2 separate regions of the Homo sapiens genome follow, and region 1 is linked to region 2. A link means that fine-mapping ties the variant in region 2 to the expression of a gene that starts in the linked region. Tissue or cell type: stomach. Region 2 holds a variant in brackets; the other region holds the start of a gene. All regions are shown on one strand. Distances are from middle to middle.

What was found. PIP is the estimated chance that this variant, and not a neighbour inherited with it, causes the effect.
Region 1: INSYN2A starts here. The variant in region 2 is fine-mapped to the expression of INSYN2A in stomach (GTEx, PIP above 0.99). The same link has a PIP of 0.9 or more in ileum.

What each region holds. Positions count from the first base shown.
Region 1 is chr10:127,192,567-127,200,223 of GRCh38, reverse strand. It overlaps INSYN2A (inhibitory synaptic factor 2A), which reads left to right and starts at 3,633. Exons shown (of 6, transcript NM_001039762.3): 1 at 3,633-4,227; 2 at 7,494-7,619. The region is part of intron 27 of DOCK1 (dedicator of cytokinesis 1); the gene reads right to left.
Region 2 is chr10:127,399,751-127,407,407 of GRCh38, reverse strand. It overlaps DOCK1 (dedicator of cytokinesis 1), which reads right to left. Exons shown (of 52, transcript NM_001290223.2): 39 at 4,264-4,353; 40 at 2,979-3,083. It overlaps LOC105378551 (a long non-coding RNA gene), which reads left to right and starts at 7,217. Exons shown (of 3, transcript XR_001747642.3): 1 at 7,217-7,657. The variant A/G (reference allele first, on the strand shown) is at 4,023.

The DNA.
Region 1 (7,657 bases), 210 kb after region 2:
AATAAACTTGTTTTCACTTTGCACAGTGGACTCGCCCTGTGTTCTTTCTTGTGTGAGATCCGGGAACCCTCTCTTGGGATCTGGATCGGGACCGCTTTTGTGTAACAAAGACATGGGAAAGAAAAATTCACGTCCATAGCGAGCTCTGTCACAGCGACATCGGACAGTTGGGAGGGCAGGCGTTTCATCGGCAGTCTCCTAAAGAAGGAAGTTCTGCTGTGTAGCTAAACTGGAAGGCTCCTCTTCTGCAGTTGCTAGTTTGGAGACACTTTTCTCTTCTCCTGCCTTGCACACTGGAGAGGATACAGGTTAATCACACTGACAGATACACTGGTTCACTGAGGGGTAAGGGTTATTGGGGAGCATGCATGTGGACATTGCAATGACACAGTGATGATGCTCAGACAAATGAGGTCACACTGAGACAGGAAGCATCTCCATGAATTTCTATATAGGTGGAAAACTGCATAAGCAACTAGTGCAGGAGACAGAATGATCCAGCACCAGTGAAGTTGCTGTGGTCCCGGGCAACGAGTATGCCTCAAAGGTAATCCCCATTCTGATATTTTCCACCATTGATAACTTTGTCGCATTCTTGGACTTCATCTAAAGGGAATCATGTCATAAACACTGGGCGTCTGGCTTCCTTTGTTCTGCACCTTTGTAGAAGCCCTCCATGCCAAAGCATGCATCAGCAGTTAGTGCTTTTGGGTTGCTGTCTAGTATTCCACTATACGAAGAACCAAGAAATCTTTATCTACTGTTGACTGGTATTTGGATTATTTCCCGTTTGGAACAGATATAGATAAACCTGTTATGAACATTCTTGAACATGTTTGACTTGTATATTCTTGACTTTTTAATGTGGAAATTGAGACCTCAAACTCACTATACCATAGGGGTGGAATTCCAGCAATTCTCTGTACAACCCCTGCACAATTCCAAGAAGAAGGCAAAAGAAGAGAGACGTGGATATTTTGCTTAGTTAGCCGTCTTGAACTTTCCCTTATTTTTATTCCTCTGCTTTTAGGAAATCCCACTTGAAAAGTAGCTATTTTCTCCTTTGCAAGTCTATCTTTTTCAACAAAAATCTTAAGCAAAATATAAAAAGCCAATACCAATTGATTCCTAAAATGAATCTATCAAGTTTCACTTTTTTTTTTTCCTGAGGAAGCCGAGCATATTGACTCATTCTAGACCCTAAAAATATGCCTACATCCCATCTATTAAAAAAAAATGCAAGAGGGATCTGTGGGCAGGAAGATGGCTGAAACTCCCTTCTCTCCAGCCAGCCCCCAGCATGATGCTTGCTTTAAAGCCTGGAGCATGATGACACACACCTCACCCATGTGGAATATCTCTCCAGAGCCAAAGGTAAGGTGAGGCAAGTTTTCACCAATATTTTGATTTGTGATGCTGAAGACATGCACTTAAGCACTACAATATGTAAATGGTTTCCTACTTCAAAAAAAAAAAAAAGAAGCGATGCCAATGATTTTAATAGACTTAGCAAAACAACTGTAAGTCTACTACACAATTGAACAACTCTAAGCAGTCCTGATGATGCTACAGAATTCCGTTATACTCTCCTCTTCATGTAAGTGGATTTTCTAACCTGCCAATTACGGCTTTCCATTTTCTTCCTGGAGTTATACATCATGCGAATCTCAGATAGCACTGTCCTTGGAGCTGTTTTCTTGCCAGTTCACAGTGCCACCTGTGGCTGAGCACTGCCTTGCTGGGCATGCATTTATGTTGACCTGTTTTCACTCTTGGTCCCGGAAAACTTCAGCCTTCTGATACTACCAGCCCAATGCCCAAGTTTCCTGGCAGCTTTATTTACAGTCACTTTAAAAGACGGAAGGCAGATTTCAATTTTATGGATTGCCAATAAAGTAAGATTTACAGAAGTTCCCCAGACCACTGGGAAAATTACTGGAGCCCACAGCTGCAACAGCACATCCCCAAGGGAACATGCTGGAGAGTGGCAACTTCTCCTATCTGGTTTTAAACGTCCCCAACTCCTATACATTCCCTTCCCAGGCCCCTTCCAGGCAGAAGAGGGGACTGCAGTTTCCATACTGCTCACACAAAATTAAGCATCTCTTTCCAGCCAGCTCCCAACAGCCTCCCTGGTAAGCTGGAAAATCAGCTTGGGGGATCTGAGTTAAGAAGAACAACAAGAAGAGTGAGGTGGGCAGAGTTTGGATCCACAGGCTCAGGACTCCCGTCCTGGGCATATCTGGATCCCCAAGGCTGGCAAAATTGTATACCAAAGGATGCTGCGGGGTAAAGAGGGAAATAGATGACATTTTAGATTTTTTTTTCTTCTGAAATGTCTGGACACACTGCCCAAAGCATCCACATACAAAGAAGGTATTTCGTATAAAGTCATTTATAAAAAACAGACACTCTATAAGGCAGTGATAGGCTCAGTTCAGCTCAGCGAACAAGGATGGAGCTATGGCTTGGTCACAGGCACAGAGCTGGTGCTAGGTGCAGAGACTCAGGGATGTATAGGCAAAGAGGTCTCACTGCCCACTGATGTGTCTGGAGAGGTGGGTGGGTGAAGGGACTTTCCATTTGTCCTCCCAATTTCCTCTCCGAAGCCTGTCCCTTCCCTGGGGTCCACTACTTCTCTGACCTTTCCTGAGAAACAGACTAATAAATGTGGCTACTTACATTTTACATTACATTCTAGGAGCAAATCCAGGGGGCCAGGAGCCCTGCACTCGGCTGGCTGCTTAGTCCCTGGCCCAGACCCCAGGGCCTGACAGGCATCAGAGGGGCCCCTGGGTCTGCTGCTCTGAGCTCAAAACACCCAATACTCTTTGGTGGGTGGGAAATTAAGGGCGGGGATAGCTCCGTGTGCATCCTAGGTCTTTTCCTCTCCCAAGAGAATTCTACTCTGCCACAAAGGAACTCAGCCTCTGCGCCCTGTGGCTTCTGCTGACGGGTGGTGTGTGCTCTGGATGGGGGGTAGGGTTCCTGGCTAGGAGTGGCAGTGGCGCCTGCTCTGGAGTGTCCCTAAATGTCAGCATGCAACATTACCAGGCAGGCCCTCCCACTTCAGTCCTCAGGCCACTCATAGGACCTCCTGTCCCCATGTAGAGAGGCTGACACCAGGTTGGAGCCAGCACTGAAAGGATCCCCGAACTCCTGCTTCTACAAGGCAGCATCCGCAGGTGAGCGGCCAGGCACCTACAAGACACGCACCCTTCAAGCCTGGCTTCCCAAAGCCCCGCCGGGCCAGGCTGGCTGGCACAGCAGACAGTCATGCAGCAGGGTCCCCAGCGACCCCCCATCCCTGAGAGAACACACGGAGTCCCCCGCCCGCCAGCTGCTCCGGAGGCGGCTCCAGGGTAGACTCAACAAGTTCCCGGGCCATGCAGCGCCGCCTGCAGCCCAGAAACCCGGAGGACGCGCTGTGGCGGAGCCCCGCGCGCAGGCGGCAGCCGGCGGCAGCCGGCGGCAGCTCCTTCCACCTCCTCCTCCTCTTCCTCCTCCTCCTCCAGCTCTGGCGGCGGCGGGAGGGGGCTCCTCCACTCCCTCCCTATCCCCCACCCCACGCACGCGGCCCGGCCCGGCCCGGCCCCGCGCCGCCCCCGCCCCACCTCCGCCCCGCGGGGCCCGGGGCTCCGCCCGCCTCGGTGCCAGCCGGGCGCACAGGCGGCAGGCGCGCGGCTTGGGGCGCCCTCGCCTCTGGCCGCCCGGCTCCGCGGAGTAGCTGGGACCTGGAGCAGCGGAAAGGACTTCCCTCCTGCTCCCTCCTCTGCCCCGCCCCCGCCTCCTGGCCCTGGCTCTGAGATCTCGCCGAAGACAATTGCAGTAAATGAGGACATCGGAGGAGCGCGAAGCCGGGTGGCTGTGGCTGGCTCCGCCGCGTCGCGAGCAAGCGAGCGCGCGGGCGTCCCCGGAGCTGGCCCAGCCGCTGCCTCCCCGCGCGCGTCGCTAAGCGGGGCCGGAGGGACGCGAGCGACGCGAGCTGCGGCGCGGGGGCCGGCCGGGCCAGCAGGGCCGGGCCGGCAGCGGTGGAGGGGGCGGGCAGCAGGCGCGCAGCGGGCCAAGTCCCCGGAGCCGAGGCTTCCTCCGCGTGAGCGCGGCGAGTCTGGCCGCGGATGCCCTGTCCGGAGTGCTCCGTGCCGCCCCAGGCTTGCCAGGGTCCGCAGCGAGACATGCCCGAGCCAGGCGCTGCATCGACCTCGACTTATCTGTAAGCAGCGGAAGGTAAGCGGAGCCCCGCGTGCCCTCCTCCCGCGCCCCCGCGCCCGTCGTACTTGGCCGCGGGCAGAGCACCGCTGGGACGGGCGCCGACCCCGATTCGGGCGCACACACTCGGCCCCAAACCGGCTTGGCCGGAAACTCGGCGGCTCCCGGGGCCGGGACACCCCGGTGCAGCCGGGAGCGGACCCGGTGCGGTCGCAGGTGGGGGGCAAGGTTATGCAACTGCATCTGGCGCGACCGGGTCGCTGAGGGGCGTCTGGCAACTTTGGCGACGTCAGGGAGGAGCGGGGCTGCGCCTCTGCGATGTGGGTTCCAGACAGACGCCACAGCTTCGTGAGCGCCCGACAGCCCTAGCCAGGCAAAACTGGGAGATCTGGGGGCGGCCGTCTCCCCGGAAGGTTTCGAGGCTTTTAAGTATTTTCCAAACTAAAGCGCCCTGGAAAGTACAAGTACGGCTGATTAACTTCGGGGGGGGGATGAGTTGGAACAGAGGGGCCCTGACGCCGGCCGTTGAGGAGAGGCGCGAGCAGCAGTGAAGGCAGATGCCCACGTGAAATGCTCGTCTCCTCCACTCGCTGGGGTTGGCACCTTCCCGGGGCTGCGGGTTGGGGTCGGCGCCGCGGGGCTTCCCGGTGCCTGGCAGCCCGAGTCAGACCGGGACAGGCGTGGGAAACCAACCAACGCTGCAGACCTAAGAGACTGCGAGCTGGCGGGCGAGGGCAGGAGGGAGGAGGGAGCCCGCGGGCAGCCCGGGGTCGGGGCAGCTCCTGGAGCCCAAAGTCAAGAGCGAGAGTCTGCATCTTGCTGGTTCATGCTCAGGGCTCCAGGCTGATGTCCCCACTGCTTGGATAAAGAGCCGCTCCCTGTGACCTCAGCATTCTACTACCCAAAAATATGCCACAGGGAGAGGGAGCCAGTGATAAAGAGATGCCAGGAGTGGGGGAGGAGAGGTGCCTCTGGAGTAAATAGGAGAGAAAATGGGTGCGTTTTGCTTATCTACAGCCCAGGGCTCCCGCCCGGACCCCTCTCCTGCTGTTGGTCTGTGCTGGGGAGCTGCACGCGCTCTGGGCCCCTGCGCCAGAAGCAGCGGTGAAGCGGTTTACTTTGACCTTGTCTGCTTAGGCGCTGAAATTCTGCGGAAGCATCCCGAGGTGAAACTGCAAGAGTGGGAATGAACTTTGGGGGAGCCCTGCCTTGGCTGGGAAGCCAAACGATCATTTCAGAAGACTACAGCTCAGGATAGCACAGGGTAGACGTCTGTGCACTTGAACGCTCCCCCCTCAACGAGGACTTGCTAGAGGGTTACCTTTCCATGCCTTATCTCAGTGGGGGGACTGTCAGAGTGACTGCGCTGGCTGGGTACTTGATGAAAAAATACCACTCACAAGACCCGGGCCATTCCCAGAGTAGTACATACATGAAAATGATATAACCCTTATTAAGCTTACGCTACAGCAAGTTACCGTCATTTCACTATGCAGAGGCGGAAAGTGCTGGTTTTTACTATTCCCCCACACTGTACTATTTCTTACATTCATATCCTGTTGAATGTTACTTTTGAAAGTTCATATTTATCTTTGCAATTTTTTTGCAAGAATGATTAGCAAACATGCACAAGGAGCTCAAAGAAAAAATGGAAGTCCTGCCATCTGCATGCCTCACCAGATATTAATCATTTACTATCCATGTTTACTACTTACATTAGATGGCACTGCTCCTCACGATGGTTTTATTAGAGGCGCATTTGGTTAAGGAAAAGAAAAAGTCTAGCACAGCTATCACTAATTGCATGATTTTGCATAAATTACATTAGCCATGGAGAGTTTTGTTTTCTTCACTAAATTCATCATTTTGTTTAAAAGACTAAACAATTCAGTTTAATTTCTTTAGCTAAATGAAAGACTTTTCCTTAAAGACAAGATGTCCTTGAAAAGCTACATATGTCTTTAAACTTATTACAGTTGCCACGACTTTGTATTTTATCATTGTGATTAAGACTTTGAGCTTTCATGTAAGTCAGGCCCTTTATCCTATTAAGAAACAGAATTACTGGTTAAGAAATAGGCTAACAAGGCAAAAGCTGGGAAGCTCCATGTCTGCACAATGAGATTTCTGCAAGCTCTATGGGAGGCTGGGTACTCTATTACTCTGTTTACTTCGGGGGCTTCTCTGTTTTGCCACAGTTGTTTTCCCCTGTGGCAGGAAAGGGAATTTTTGTGTTTTGTTTCTCCCTCTGTAGGGAAAAATTTTTAAATAAATCAATAAATAAGAGAAAGACTTGTACGTGAAAGGCATTCATCTACAAGGAAGACTCCTACACACTGAAATAAGCAGTCCAAAAATCAAAATGATTCTCAGAAATAACAACGGATCGCAGTGGAGTGGCAGGACAGACCCGTTCACGTAGACATTTGTATTCTCTTGTTTGCGCCCAGCCATGGCTATCTCATTTAGAGACAACTACTGAACTCTGGAATATGAGAAGCAGGTGACTTATGCTTCTCAGAGACTCATGATACAGAAATGATCACAGCTACCTCCCAAAGCAGCAGCTCTGTGGTCAGATATTTACGTAGGAGGGCAGTGACAGGTTCACCACGGATTTTAACGCTTGTGAAGGATGCTGTTCAACGCGTCCATAGCATCCAAGAAGCTCAGTTGGGAAGGCAGGCAAATTCTACATACTTGAGGCAAACCACCGTCATTCTGGGAGTGTGAGGTCATAAAAACTCCCCAGATAAAACCAGTGTCATCGTCATTTTCAACAGTCTTTCATAAATGTGAAGCACCACAACCCCTCCCCACCATGATTCCACTGGTTGGAGACCTACATTCCCCAACCAGAAATTAGCTGGCATGATTTATGAAGCAGATCCTTTTTTGTCTCACATATTTGATTTTAATATTTCATAACATTATGGGGTGACTTCAATATTTTAAAGCAAAATTTAATATGATTGATACTACATGACGACACTTTCATTACCATGAAATTCTCATACAAACATTGAGAGAAGTCTTTATTCCAATACTGGAGCTAACCTATGATATATATGTAGTGAAACTTCATGACTTTTAATCAGTTTATTTAAAATGTACATTGTTCTTATACATTAAGGACAGAATACAGACTTGCAGGAACCAAACTATAGGGACCCTGACAGGATTGCTGTAAACAAGTTGTTTGGACAATGTCTTGTGTTAAGCACTAAGCCATGAAAGGATAGGTTTGAACCTTTGGACCATGTGTGATAATGTGTCTGTTTCAGATCCTGAAGGCACTAACTAAGGTATCTCCAGGCAACCAAGGATCTTACCTCTCACATTGAGAAAAACCATAACTTCAGAGACATTTCCTGGCTCCAAATTCAAGTCCTTTCAGAGACCCCTCTACTGTAAGTCACAGGATATTCAGTGTGCATTTGAGTCGTAC
Region 2 (7,657 bases):
GTGCCTCAGAAAAGAGGCCCCAGAGAGCTGCCTGCCCTTTCCACCCCATGAGAACAGGTGGAAGGCGCCATCTATGAGGAATGGCCCTCCCCAGACTCCAAATCTGCTGGCACCTTGATCTTGGACTTCCCAGCCTCCGGAACTGTGAACAATACATTCCTGTTGTTTATAAAGTACCCAGTCTAAGGTATTTTGTTACAGCAGCCCCAGTGGACTAAGACAGTCCCCTTCCCTTGCCCCAGCTTATTCTGAGTTCTCCTAAATCGCTAAAAAAAGAACCAGTTTAAGAATTGAATTCTTTTTCACTTTGTGCTTAGATATGTCTTAGAAGTACCATTATGGAAGAAAAATGCTCTATTTCTCCCCACCGCCCCCCCGAAAAAAAAAAGTCAAGCAGAAACCAGATAATATGTCATCTTAAATACAGTCTGAGCAACTTCTAAGGCTTCTATATAAAGCCACGCACTTCCAAAATTCAGTAAGATTTAATGGATAACAGACTACTATCAAACTAGCAAGCATTTTTCTTATGCTTTACATGAGAAAACATAATAATAAAAATGTATATAAAGACTTTAATAGAAAAAAGCTAGTGAGTTATAGGTAAAAACACGAATAACATTTTCTGAAAATGTCAGTTACTTTGCATTCTGAAGTGATCCTTTTGAACATGAAAACAAGGGGGAAATGTACATATAGTCAAAGATATTTATTCCTTGTAAGGTCTATAAATATCAACATGAGCACAAAAAACAGTGAGACCAATTTTTAGAGAAAAACAAAGCAAAAGGGACAGCTAGTCAGTTCTTGGAGGCTCCTCTCCAGCAGGGCATGAAGCACGCAAACATTCTGCCCACGTTTTGGTAACTGCCAGTGTCATTGGCAGATTGACCCCTGCCAGCTCATCTGTGAAGTGTGATAAATATATTGCTGCAGACCCACAGAATGATCCAGGTGTGGCGGGAAAGTCAGTTCAATATTAATCGAGCCTGTTAACCTCCATTCAGACTTTTCATTTTGTCCTTTTGGTGGTGGAGATGACCCAGCACCGCCCCTGGAGCCTGCTGTGTGTGAGCTCCTGGCACAACCTGGCATCTATTGGCTCGGGAGCTGCAACGTGTCCTCCGCACCCGGCACTGCCCTCACATAATATTCCACGCAGGCTGCTCCCTTGCTCTGGATTCTGGGATAACCATCCTGCACGGATCCAGAGTTGGTGCCTACATACCAGAGGTAGATCTCCATCCACAGGGGCCACACGCACCATCTAACACCAAGCACTGCACAAGGCTGCATGGCTTAGGGTCCACCTGCCTCCCTTTCCTAAAGATGTATGTTCCGGAGCACACACACACTCGAATTAAAGCCTTTAGCAACAGTAAGTGGCTTTAACTCCAAGCTCATTCCACCCTTCAGCTTTGTTTTTTATTGAGAATGAAGCTAATTTCAAATTTGTCTCTAATTTAGAGCTTGTAACTAAGCCTCCTTTATTCATTCTTTGGAAGGGAAGACTTTGTTCAGAATCTGTGCTTCTGATCAACCGCTGTCTTTGCTGCACGATGAAGGCAAGAGGAGAAGCTGACCAGCAGTGACCAGGAGTGACCAGGACAGGGCCAGACGCCTCCGTCACCAGGCAGGACACTGAGTGGGCAGCCAGCCTCACCTCCTAGAGCAGGCCAGAACTGTGGTGCTCCCCTGTCAACAGTGACATGCCCTTCCTAAGGGGAGGTCTGTATCCTCTGGGTGCCGTGATGAAGAGATGTCACACTATTAGTGACTCCCGTGGAGTCGGAAACACAGGACCCCAAATGAACAACGTCTGGAACCAGGGGAATCTCCCAACTGGTTTCAACTGCCCCAGACGGCTGTGCTCAAGACACAGAGCTTCTGCTTCCTAAAGCCAGAGCAATCACACATAGTCTCCTAGGATAAGAGAAAACCAAGTGTCCAAAAAAAAAAAAAAAAAGTCATAAGAAATATCAGGAAATCATGACCCACTGGTCAATGGCATCCAAAGAATGTGTTCTTGAGAAAATGTATAAACAATTCTATGGTAGGCCAGGCAGCACTATTAATATTTATGTAACTTCTCCTTTGGCCTCATGTGAATACTGGGAAATGGGCACCTGGCAGGTGATCACGGTTACTGCTTCAATTACATGTCTGAAAGCACATGCCTGTCTCAGGGATGGAGCCTGGTTTGGAGTTTCTAGCACCGTGGCCATACAGATCCATTTCCAATTTCCCATATAATTAAAAACATACATCTTCATAGCAGCACATTGGGCGGGGACAACCCAAATGTTCATCAGTGGATCAATGAATAAATAAAATGTGGCCTCTCCATGCAATGAAATACCATTCAGCCTCAAAAAGGATAAAGTTCTGACACATGCTACAACCTGGATGAAACTGGAAGACATTCGGCCGAGTGAAACAAGCCAAACACAGAAGGGCGAACACTGTACAATTCCACTAATACAAGGTCCCTACAACAGTCAGATTCATAGAGACACAAAGTAGAACGGTGGCTGCTGGGGCTGGCAGGAGGGAGAATGGGGAGTTCGTGTTTAATGGATGCAGAATCTCAGTTTTGCAAGATGAAAAAGTTCTGAAGGTAGATGGTGGTGCTGGCCGCACAACAACGTGACTGTATTAATGCCACCGAACTACACACCTAAAAATGGCTAAGATGGCAAATAGTATCACATATCATATATCACACCTCAATTAAAATAATACGTGTAAATCTCTGAAGGAGGGTCCTTTTACGGAAAAATCAGATAGAAAGGTTATATGCAACCAAATAAAATCCTGTCAACCCCTCTCTGCCCCCCGGGCTAACCACCGAGCTATGGCAGTGTAGAGAGTTGCACGATCCCACGCGGATGCAAACTCCCCACCCTTCCTCAGAACGGGAAGGGGATTTTCTGCTGGGGGAACAATCATGGCTCAGATTAGGCAGAACCAAACTTTACCCGCAGGAATGTGGGGAACCCTTGTCCGTAGTAGCCAACAGCAAAATAGTCAGGCTTGGGCCTGATCACTTTGACGATGTTTTCATAAAACTGAGCCTGTTTTTTCTGGAAGGAAAAAAGAAAATGCATTTCAGGTTTGAGTATTCAAGCATGTGTGCCTCTGGATTCTTCTTGCGGGCTCTTTAAAAGCTCTGGCAACTTCTATAGGGTGGGAGGGGGAGATGGTGGGAGAGGGAGATGGTGGGAGAGGGTACTGAGGCTTGCACCTGAATTTCATCTCACTCCATCGTTTTGACATTATTTTTCACTCATTCTCCATCATTCCGCAAGGGAATCTGAACCAACTAGCCCAAATTCAGCAAAAAGTTGTGACTTATGGGTGTTTTCAATAACCAAAGAAGTGCCATAGAAATGGCTGGCCCTTAGTATTTTTTAAAAGGTATAGGTCAGATAGTGGGATACGTTCAAAGAGAATTTAAAGGAACAGAATCGTTCTGTTCTAAATTCATGACAGACATTCCCACATCATTAAGGTGATCTGCTGAATACAAAAATGACAAGGTGGAGGAGGTAGCAATTAGAAACTAACAGCATTCCCATGGCAGAAGAAAGGTCTGGTCATTATCTATCCATCCCTCTCTCATAGAAGGGGTCAGGTTTTTTTGTTTTTTGAGACGGACTCTCACTCTGTTGCCCAGGCTGGAGTGCATTGGCGCGATCTCAGCTCACTGCAACTTCCACCTCCTGGGTTCAAGCGATTCTCCAGCCTCAGCCTCCCAAGTAGCCAGGACTACAGGCGTGTGCTACCACGCCCGGCTACTTTGTTGTATTTTTAGTAGAGATGGGGTTTCACCGTGTTAGCCAGGATGGTCTTGATCTCCTGACCTCGTGATCCGCCTGCCTTAGCCTCCCAAAGTGCTGGGATTACAGGCGTGAGCCAGTGCGCCTGGCCTGGGGTCAGTTTTAAACTAGTACAAATGTTCACAGACTCCTGGGCTGTCAAGACCGCTATACACAAGGTCAGCAGTTGTTTACGTACAATTT[A/G]TTCATAGAAGCCTTAAGAGTTTGGTTATAAGAGCTGACTTGGGACTAAAAAGTAAATATTTATGGGCCAAATATCAACCAGCAAATTAACTAAAACCATCTTCCTAGGCAAAACGGAGGGACATGGCCAAGGTCCCAGAGTGCCTGGGGTGAACCCTAACATTGACATGGAAAGAGAGATTCCTGAAAAACCAGCTGAGATTGCCTGTGTTCATTTAAATAAAAAGAAATAAAGACTCACCAGCAATTCGCTGAGTTGCTCATAATCAAACATTTCGTTCTCATACTGCTCGGCTAGCTCCTTGCCCAAGGCAATGGCCTCCTCCCACATCTGTGAGTTAAAATAAAGAAAAGAAAGAGAAGCCGAGGCCTGAATTGTGCAAAGAGTCAAACAGGAATGCAATCATTCAAAATAAAACAGTGTAGAAGTACATTTGAATGAAACATTATGGGAATAACACCGAAAAAATACAAATATTTTCTTGAGTCTCATGTCTTTTGGCTCGTGACCTGCGGCATCAGCTGGCCAAAGAGGTCAATCACTGGCATGTCAATCACGCAGGCCTCTGGCCATGGTAACAGCAGTCTGTCAGCCAGTCCTCACTGCTCCTGTCTTTGCTCTCCTGCTGCCAGCTGTGGCCCGAAGCCCGTCTGTCGGAGCAGCCTTGGAGCCAGGGAAAAGGAACCGTAGGGTGAAGAGAGGCTGTGGGGTGCCATTTATGTAGAAACTGGGCGCCTGACTTGGCTCTTTTCCCAAGCTGTCCACCTAAAAAATGCTATGTCGAATATCACCAATGATCAGAAATAACAGGGCAGACTTCGACTCTAAACTAAAGCTTGCAGAAAGTTTGATGTATGTGTGTGACTATGCTATGGATATAAAGCCTGTTATCATTTTGAAAAGGGGGAACTTTGTAAGGTAAGTAACTTTCCAAATAAGTGATTAAAATGTTGATAAGCTTTTGACACATGTGGAATAATTTTTTGATAGATAGTTGGCCTGAATTTCCCTTATTTTTCTTGGGAAAAACAAAGCGGATTACTGGAGAAAACCATGGAAAAGTAAGAGGAACCACCTCTTCCAGGAAGCCTTCCTAGCTGCCGCCCACTCTCCTCCTCTGTGCTCCCACAAAGACCCAGGATCCTGCTGCCTCAAAACTTTTGGTAAGGTACTGAAACTAGCATGACCCTTTGTCATTCCTCCTCAGAGAATATAAGCCCTTGAGGACAGGGGCTCAGCTTTATCAACCTGTAAAACCTCTGGACCTTAATCCAGGGCCTGCTTAACAAGGTTTAGTGAACAGAACTGCAGGATGCTGAGTTACAATCAGGAAAGCTTCCTATATGCTGCATTCAACTTCCATCATTCCCACAAGACGGTAGCGCCAGTCCTGAGGGGAACCACGCAGCTTTGGAACCACCCAACAGGCCAGGCTTTCTAGGCCGCGAATCTAGACTACCCTTGGCACTGAGCCCCCACCCGCCTGCTGCACAAAAAAAGATCAAGGCATTGCAGTAAAGAAAGAGTTTAATTGACATAAGGCCAGCCATGCTGTTACAGCAGGTAGCTAGTCAGGCATGAGCGGGGCAGGAGAGGGCTGTCCTGACACCCTACCAGGAAAGTCAGGTGACCGTCAGATGATGGTCAGGCAGGTGTACACTGTCTCTCTAAAATAATAATTGGTCACAGACAGTGCCAGGGAAAGGCAGTTTCCCAAGAGCTAGAAACACAAGCTGGTGATCAGCAGCTTCCTGATAAGATCTCAGGAGCTGGGTGAGTGGGCCCAAGCATGTGAATTGAGAGGCAAAATGGCGGAGTTTAACTGGTAACCTTCCAGGGGCATTCCACCGGAAAAGGGGTGCACGACGCTGGAAGTAGGCCAGCATATCAAACCCTAAGTCCAAGGTCAAATGGGGCACTTGACCTCCAAGATGTCTGCTTGGCCCTCTTCCAAGTGTACTTTCTTTTCATTCCTGCTCTAAAACTTTTTAATAAACTTTCACTCCTGCTCTGAAACTTGCCTCGGTCTCTTCTTCTGCGTTATGCCCCTCAATCGAATTCCTTCTTCTGACAAGGTGAGAACTGAGGTTGCTGCAGAGCTATACAGATTTGCGGCCAGTAACACCGCCACGTGGGAGACGGTGTCATTACTCAAATCAATCTCCCCAAAGGTTCCTAGGGGAGGGGCTTTTCAAAGGCAGTTTGGGAGAAGGGGTGGTGGCGGCCAGGTAATGGATGCTTGCTGCTGATGAAATCACAGGGGGTCAGAGCTGTCCTCTTGAGCTGAGTTGCTTCTAGGTGGGCCATAGGAGTGGGGCTGGTGGTCTGGGTAGAGCCAGGTGTCAGACATGCAAAAAACCTGAAAAGATCTCAAAAGGCTCATCTACGATAGTGAAGTTGTATATTTTGTGAGCAGTCTACACCTTAGCAGAATTCAGGTTTCTCCCCTCTTCCTAGCCTGATGGCCTTTCATTAGCTTTATCAAGGCAGCTGAGTTTTAGGGAAGGCCTATTATCATTTAAACCTTAAACTAGAGGTCTCCCAAAGTTGGCTTAGCCAAAGCCCAGGAATGATTACAGGAGAGGCATGACTGGGGGTGGGAGGTGGGTGAGGATTTAGATCAGATCTCTTTTACTGCCATCATTTCCTCACTGTTAATTTTTTTTGCAAAGGTGATTTTGGCTTTTCCCAGCTTACTCTATGTCCAGCCACCTGTGCTCTCCGGTTTAAGGCCTCCAATCACCTTGTCAGGTGGGCATCTGCATTATACCCATTTTGCAGATAAGGAATCTAGGGATCAGACTGGTAAGTAGCTTGCCAAGGACACACAGCAGATAAGCGGTGGGCTTGACCCAGCGTGGCCTTTTTGAAAGTCCTTGCTCCTGATGGCCACATAGCAGCACTTCCAAGCTGCTTCCCCACCTCCTGCCAGGATGGATTTGAAAAGAGTCCAGGCTGGCCTTGAACTGCAGGTTCCCACAGGGGAGGCAGACTGCCAAGCCCCAGACCTGGGTCACCCATGGCACTGAGCCCCCACCCGCTCACTGGCCTTTGCCTTTCCTTTCCAGGATGACCCCACTGAAGTCCTCACTCACTTCAGAGCCACCCAATAAACTTAAGAACACTGTTTTACTTAAATGCTCCCAAAGTACTCTTGTCATAGCCACGACGTAAAGAAACCATCTGCTTTTTTTTTTTTTTGATGAGAGTAAAAGTTATTCTACAATCAGAGCTGCATTTTAATACTTTGAATAACAAAATAAAAGTAAGCCCAAAGAAGACAAAGGTTTCAGAGCTGGGACCAGTGTCCAGGGAGGGTAGGAGGTGGCCCAAGACATCCTGCCTACGGTCCCTGCTCTGCTACCTGGTCCCTTCCCAGAGTCCCCATCTGTCTGTCTCCCCCATCCTGCTGAAGGTTTAAAGTTGCCTCCCATTCCTGGAATATCTCAGTCTGCTGCTCTAAGTCTTTCGTATGTCCTCTGCCAGAGCCCCGGCTCACATTTTCTAGGAAGGGAGAACTTCCCTACTTTTAACGTTTTTTTAAAGCTCCAGTGACCACTTCCTCTCTGAGCAGATTTCCATTTCAAAGAGAACATTACCTTTCCTTGTAGGTCTCTTACACTGGATTCTTCTT